Linked DNA regions of Homo sapiens. The gene in region 1 interacts genetically with each later gene. Each region holds a gene or a part of one and is shown in the gene's direction. Other genes may lie near its edges.

What was found. Genes that interact genetically often act in the same process or in processes that back each other up.
Region 2: changes in CENATAC (region 1) and EXOSC9 together harm fitness less than expected from each alone (positive genetic interaction), as found in Homo sapiens cells (one large-scale study listed by BioGRID).

What each region holds. Positions count from the first base shown.
Region 1 is NC_000011.10:119,008,138-119,011,637, forward strand, and holds part of CENATAC (centrosomal AT-AC splicing factor), read left to right. Parts: intron 1-2,626; coding exon 2,627-2,693; intron 2,694-3,083; coding exon 3,084-3,146; exon of another isoform or gene 3,147-3,174; intron 3,175-3,500. UniProt on the Homo sapiens protein: Component of the minor spliceosome that promotes splicing of a specific, rare minor intron subtype. Negative regulator of centrosome duplication.
Region 2 is NC_000004.12:121,807,823-121,811,322, forward strand, and holds part of EXOSC9 (exosome complex component RRP45), read left to right. Parts: intron 1-2,144; coding exon 2,145-2,277; intron 2,278-3,500. UniProt on the Homo sapiens protein: Non-catalytic component of the RNA exosome complex which has 3'->5' exoribonuclease activity and participates in a multitude of cellular RNA processing and degradation events.

The sequences.
Region 1 (3,500 bases):
TTCTAGTCGGGTGGGATGAGAGACGGAGAAAAGAAATAAGACACAGAGACAAAGTATAAAGAAACAACGGTGGGTCCAGGGGACTGGTGCTCAGCACACCAAGGACCTGCACCGGCACCGGCCTCTGAGTTCCCTCAGTTTTTATTGATTATTATTTTTCATTATTTCAGCAAAAAGGAATGTAGTAGGACAGCAGGGTGATAATAAGGAGAAGGTCAACAAATTACATGTGAGCAAAAGAATGTATATCACGATTAAGTTCAAGGGAAAGTACTATGCCTGGACGTGCACGTAGGCCAGACTTATGTTTCTCTCCACCCAAACATCTCAGTGGAGTAAAGACTACAAGGCAGTATCACTGTAAACATGTCTCGCCTCCCGCCACAGGGCAGCTTTTCTCCCATCTCAGAGTTGAACAAATGTACAATCGGGTTTTAAGCCGAGACATTCAGTTCCCAGGGGCAAGCAGGAGATAGTGGCCTTCCTCCATCTCACCTGCAAGAGGCTTTCCTCTTTTACTAATCCACCTCAGCACAGACCCTTTACAGGTGTCGGGCTGGGAGACAGTCAGGTCTTTCTCATCCCACGAGGCCATATTTCAGACTATCACATGGAGAGAAACCTTGGACAATACCCCGCTTTCAAGGGCAGAGGTCCCTGCGGCTTTCCACAGTGCATTGTGCCCCTGGTTTATTGAGACTAGAGAATGGCAATGACCTTTACCAGATGTACTGCTTGTAAGTATTTTGTTAACAAGGCACGTCCTACACAGCCCTAGGTCCCTTAAACCTTGATTTTATACAACACATGTTTTTGTGAGCTCCAAGTTGGGTCAAAGTGGCTGGGTCAAAGTGGCTGGGACAAAGCTACAAATCAACAACATCTCAGCAAAGCAACTGTTTAAAGTACAGGTCTTTTTCAAAATGGAGTCTCTTATGTCTTTCCTTCCTACATAGACACAGTGACAGTCTGATCTTTCTTTCTTTTCCCTACAACTTATTATTATTTTTGAGACAGAGTCTTGCTCTGTCACTGGCCTGGAGTGCAGTGGCCCGATCTCGGCTCACTGCAACCTCCACCTCCGAGGTTCAAGCAATTCTCGTCTCAGCCTCCCAAGTAGCTGGGATTACAGGCACCTGCCACCACATCTGGCTAATTTTTTGTGTTTTTGTAGAGACAGGGTTTCACTATGTTGGCCAGGCTGGTCTTGAACTCCTGGCCTCTTGATCCACCCGTCTCGGCCTCCCAAAGTGCTGGGATTACAGGCGTGGGCCACACCGCGCCTGGCTTAAATGATTTTTTAAAACTAAGTGGCTTAATATTCTGCAATTTTAATCTGAGAGGGGTGGAACAGAAAGCCCCATACCTCATCAGAACCTGGGAGTTGATGAGAAACCATTTGATGACAACCTCCTAGGGGAGATGGGGAGGGAAGTGGGAGATGGCCTCATAGCAGCTTCTGGCAGACCTTCCACCCTCGTGTTCCAGGAGGATTAAACAAGCCTTTCAGCCACAATTCGGTAAGGTGTGGCTCAAGCCATTGTCTCCTTGGATATATTCAAGGCTCTCAGGGAACACTGTTGATAGTGGTATTGGTATTATACTGAAACTTTGTGTTGAGAACCAGGGTTTTGAGAACCAGGGTTTTCACTATGGCAAAAGGAAGATACAAGTAAGGAATGGAGGCATTTGAATAGGGAGGTGACAGTACAAATTACTGATTTAAGGCCAGGCATAGTGGCTGATGCCTGTAATCCCAGTTCTTTGGGAGGCCAAGGCAGGAGAATTGCTTGAGCCCAGGAGTTCGAGACCAGCATGGGTGACATGGCAAAACCCTGTTTCTACAAAAAACACAAAAATTAGCCAGGCATAGTGGTGCTGTCCTGTAGTCCTACCTACTCAGGAAGCTAAGGCAGGAGGATCTCTTGAGCCTGGGAGCCTCTTGAGCAGAGGTTGCAGCGAGCTGAGGTTGTGCCACTGCACTCCAGCCTAGGCAACAGAGCGAGCCCGTCTCAAAAAAAAGACAAAGAAATTTAGGACAGTATGCAAGATTTGGCCTGGATTCTTCTGAGGATGTGAAGTAATGGAAACAGTAAGACTGTTCCAGACTAGGGGAAGACTAGAGACCTAATAGCTGGATTCCATGTGATCTTTTGTTGGACTTTGGGATTGGAGGTGAGAGTAGAGAAGGCATAATGCACGTTTTTGAGACGAGGGAAATGTGAATATAGCCTGTATGCCTACACTCAAGTCTGAAGACATGTAAACCATGTCTATACTAACCAGCCAAATATTTGAACACTAAAAGGAAGAATTTTCTTAATGTGGTAATGGTATCATGGTTGTATAGAATGTTCCTCCTCTTGGGAGATGTGTGTTGAAAATAGGGTTTGACGTCTAAACCTATTTTGTTTTGGCAAAAAGGACGTGTGTCTGTACAAAAGAAGTGGAGCCAGTATGGCAAAATGTTTACAAGGACTCTGGGTGAGAGGTACATAGGTGCTTACTATACTGTTTTGTTTCTGAATTTGGAATTTCTCAAAATTAAAAAAATATCTACTGAGGAGCTTTTCGTTTTAACTGGTGGGGAATGGGTTCTGGGTGGTTTTGCCCCTTTTCTTTTTAGATTCAAGAAATCCATGGTGAAAGGTTTGGATTCCTATGAAGAAAAGGAGGATAAAGTGATCAAGGAGGTAAGTTAAAGTAGCAGTCCCTCACCCTTTTTGCACCAGGGGCTGGTTTCGTGGAAGACGGTTTTTCCACAGATGGACCCAGGCAGGGGATGGTTTCAGAATGAGACTGCTCCACCTCAGATCATCAGGCACTAGATTCTCATAAGGAGCACGCAACCTAGATACCTTGCATGCCCAGTTCACAATAGTGTTTGTGCTCCTATGAGAATGTAACACCACCACTGATCTGACAGGAGCTCAGGCGGCAGTGCTGTTGCAGCCTGCTTCCTGACAGGCCACAGACCAGTACTGGTCCACGCCTGGGGGTGGAGGGCCCAAGTTAAAGGAAAGGCCTCTGAAGAAACTGGCCCCCATGATCCTGTACCTGTCTAAGCAGCCTCTCTCCCACAGATGGCAGCTCAGATCCGTGAGGTGGAGCAGAGCCGACAGGAGGTGGTTCGGTCTGTCTTAGAGGTTGGTTTCCCTCGGAGGATCCAGACCAGTATCCAAATCCACTGATCCCTGGCATTCCCAGGTCCAGCATTTCATGGACTAGTGCTTCTTCTTCTTCTTTTTTTTTTGGAGACAGAGTTTCGCTGTGTCACCCAGGCTGGAGTGCAGTGGCACGATCTCGGCTCACTGCAACCTCCACCTCCCAGGTTCAGGTTCAAGCGATTCTCCTGCCTCAGGCTCCCGAGTAGCTGGGATTACAGGTGCCGCCACCACGCCTGGCTAATTTTTATATTTTTAATAGAGGTGGTGTTTCACCATGTTGGCCAGGCTGGTCTTGAACTCCTGACCTCAGGTGATCCACCCGCCTCAGCCTGC
Region 2 (3,500 bases), on another chromosome or scaffold:
GATACTTCCCAACATTTTTCTTTTCATGGGATACTTATAAACTTAGGAATTTACTATGGCATGGTAGTGTTTTATGTTTCCTAAGGCTGTACAGTGGTTAAGAGAATTATATGCTAGGCTCTAATTTGGGACAGTGGGGTGAGAATTACTGTGGGTTATTGGAAGATAGGGGACTTTGGAACATATTAGATGGAGTAGTTCTAGGAGTCGGTTACAAGGGGGGATGGTTCACAGACTGGAGGAAAAAAATCTAATGTTCTTAAGTTTTCCAGCGTTTTCATTACTTAACTGCTAAATCCTCCTGTGGCAGAAAACTTGGAGTTTTTCAGGTCCATTTAATGGTGCTTTCAAATGAAAACTTGAGCCTTAAATTCCTTTAGAAACAAGGGAAGATAAAAATATTTCACACAGTGTTGTGCACAAGGACTAGAGAAACACTTACAAGTTTTAGTGATTGTAAGTGTAGAGTTTTATCAGAGGAAAATGGGCCAGCATTGTCCAGTAGAAATAAAATGTGAACCATATATATAATTTTCTTATTTTCTTCTTTTTTTTGAGATGAGGTCTGGCTTTGTTGCCCAATTTGGATTTCAGCAGCGTGATTTTTGCTCATTACAACCTCTGCTTTCTGGGCTCAATGAATTCTTCAGCCTCAGCCTTCCGAGTAGTTGAGACTACAGGCATGCACCACCATGCCTAGCTAATTTTTGTATTTTTTTTGTAAAAAAGAGGTTTTGCCATATTGCCCAGGCTGGTCTGGAACTCCTGAGTTCAAAAGTGATCTAGCTACCTCAGCCTCCCAAAATGCTGGATTACGGGGATGAGCCACCATGCCTGGCTGTTTCTTTTTCTTTTCTTTTCTTTTTTTTTTTTAAGACAAGGTCTCCCTCTGTCACCCAGGCTTGAGTGCAGTGGCGTGATCATGTTTTATTGCAGCCTCAACCTCTCAGGCTCAAGTGATTCTCCTGCCTCAGCCTCCTGAGTAGCTGGGACCACAGGTGCACACCATGCCCAGCTAATTTCTTTATTTTTTGTAGAGATGGGATTTCACTACGTTGCCCAGGATGGTCTGAAGCTCCTGGGCTCAAGTGATCCGCCTATCTCCACCTCCCAAAGTGCTAGGATTATAGGCTTGAGCCACCATGCGCAGCATTTGTTACTTTTTAAATTTTTTTTTTATTTTTTTGTGACAGGGTCTCACTCTCACCCAGGCTGGAGTGCAGTGGTGTGATCATAGCTCACTGCAGCCTACTTCTGAGCTCAAGTGATCCTCCCACCTCAGCCTTCCAAGTAGCTGGGACTATAGGTGTGTGGCATACCCAGCTAATTTAAAAAAATTTTTTTTGTAGAGACAGGGTCTCACTTTGTTGCCCAGGCTGGTCCCAAACTCATGAGCTCAAGTGATCTTGCAGTCCTGACCTCCCAAAGTGCTGGGATTACAAGCATGAGCCACCATGCCTGGCCTCATATGTGTAATTTAATATTTTCCAGTAGTCACATTAAAAAGGTAAAATTAATTTTTATATATTTTTAATTAATATATTTTCACGTTAATGAAATAAAATGATTAATGAAATAATCAGTATTTTAATAATTACTCATGAGATAGTCTACATTCTTTTGTTTCCACTAAGTCTCTGAAATCCAATATTTTACATACTCTGATTACATTTCAAGGGCTCAGTAACCACAGGTGACTATTGGCAAATGTACCGGACAGTGCAGAAATAGACAGTATTTTTTTCATGAGCCATTAGCAGAACGCAGTAGAACTTTGGAGTACAGGACATTAGGGCAACTTTAGGGTTAACCAATTTAACATTATCTAAGTTTTTATTAATGAGCCAGAAGTCATTTAATCAAAGAGATAGCATTAGGTTTAGATTATATATCATTTAAGTAAATCCAATCTGAACTTAATGTGATTTCATTGTAATAACTAGAGATACCCACTTAGCATTCATTTGTGTTCATAAACACAATAATTTTCTTGTCTCTTTCCCCATTTCAGTGACCCAAATCCGTAGGCTCAGACCTTTATTCTCTGTTGACTTTATTGATGCCATCTTTTAAAAATTCATTACCCAAGAAATGGTAAGCATTCGGTCTCAGATTTGTTCAGGTCCATTTAACATTCATTTCAGAACATATTTATTGGTGGATCCCAATGAACGAGAAGAACGTGTGATGGATGGCTTGCTGGTGATTGCCATGAACAAACATCGAGAGATTTGTACTATCCAGTCCAGTGGTGGGATAATGCTACTAAAAGATCAAGTTAGTGCTTTGATTAATGTCCCATTAATAATAGGTTGCTTCTCTTTAGATGCTTTTTCTTGTCTTTTAACAAAAATCCAATGGGGATACTTCCAGTGATTTATTCTAGGATGTGTTAGAATCTGGTTTCAGTACTGTCACTATTAAATACATTCTGTTGACTGGTGGCTATGAGGTATCCTCCTCCTTCCTACCTTGGTGCTCCCGTGTCTGGCCTGCTGGAGTCTGACCCTTCCACCTAGAAGCAGGGTCTAGTGAAGAAAAAGATTTATATCCCTATTAAAAAAAAAAAAAAAGTGGCCGGGCATGTTGGCTTACGCCTGTAATCCCAGCACTTTGGGAGGCCGTGGCTGGTGGATCACTTGAGGTCAGGAGTTCAAGACCAGCCTGGCCAACATGGTGAAACCCATCTCTACTAAAAATACAAAATTAGCTGGGTGTGGTGGCTGGCGCACGCCTGTAATCCCAGCTACTTGGGAGGCTGAGGCAGGAGAATTGCTTGAATCCGGGAGGCAGAGGTTGCAGTGAGCTGAGATCGTGCCATTGTTCTCCAGTCTGGGCAACAACAGCAAAATTCCATCTGAAAAAATAAAAAATAAAATAAATAAATAAATATTAGCCGAGCTTGGTGGTGCATGCGTGTGGTCCTGGCCACTTGGGAGGCTGAGGTGGGAGGATTGCTTGAGCCTAGGAGGTGGAGGTTGAGTGAGCTGAGATCGTGTCACTGCATTCCAGCCTGGGCTACGGAATGAGACCCTGTCTCAAAAGCAAATAAAAATTTTTAAACATCCAATAGTAGACATTATGTAAAAAGATAGTTTTACTTGCACTTTTAGAACTACAATTGGCAGTAGTTCTGAAACCCAGCTATATATCATATTCACATGGGAGCTTTTAGAAAATAGATCTCCATATAGCATACAGTGTAGATGATTAAAAGCTTCTTTAGTTTGAATTCTAGTTCTGCCCCCATACTAGCTGATCTTGGGCAAATGATTTTATATCTTTGGGTCTCACTTTCTTTATCTGTAAAATAGGGAATGATGTTATTGCCAACACCTTGTTGTTATAAGGATATAAATATATTGCACAGTGTCTAGCACACATTTATTAAGTGTGCAATAAATGTTAGTTTCTGGTATCATCATCATCATCTTTACCAGCATCACAAGTACTACCCAGATTACCCACAGAAAAAGGAAGTTAGTGCATCCTGGAGCATA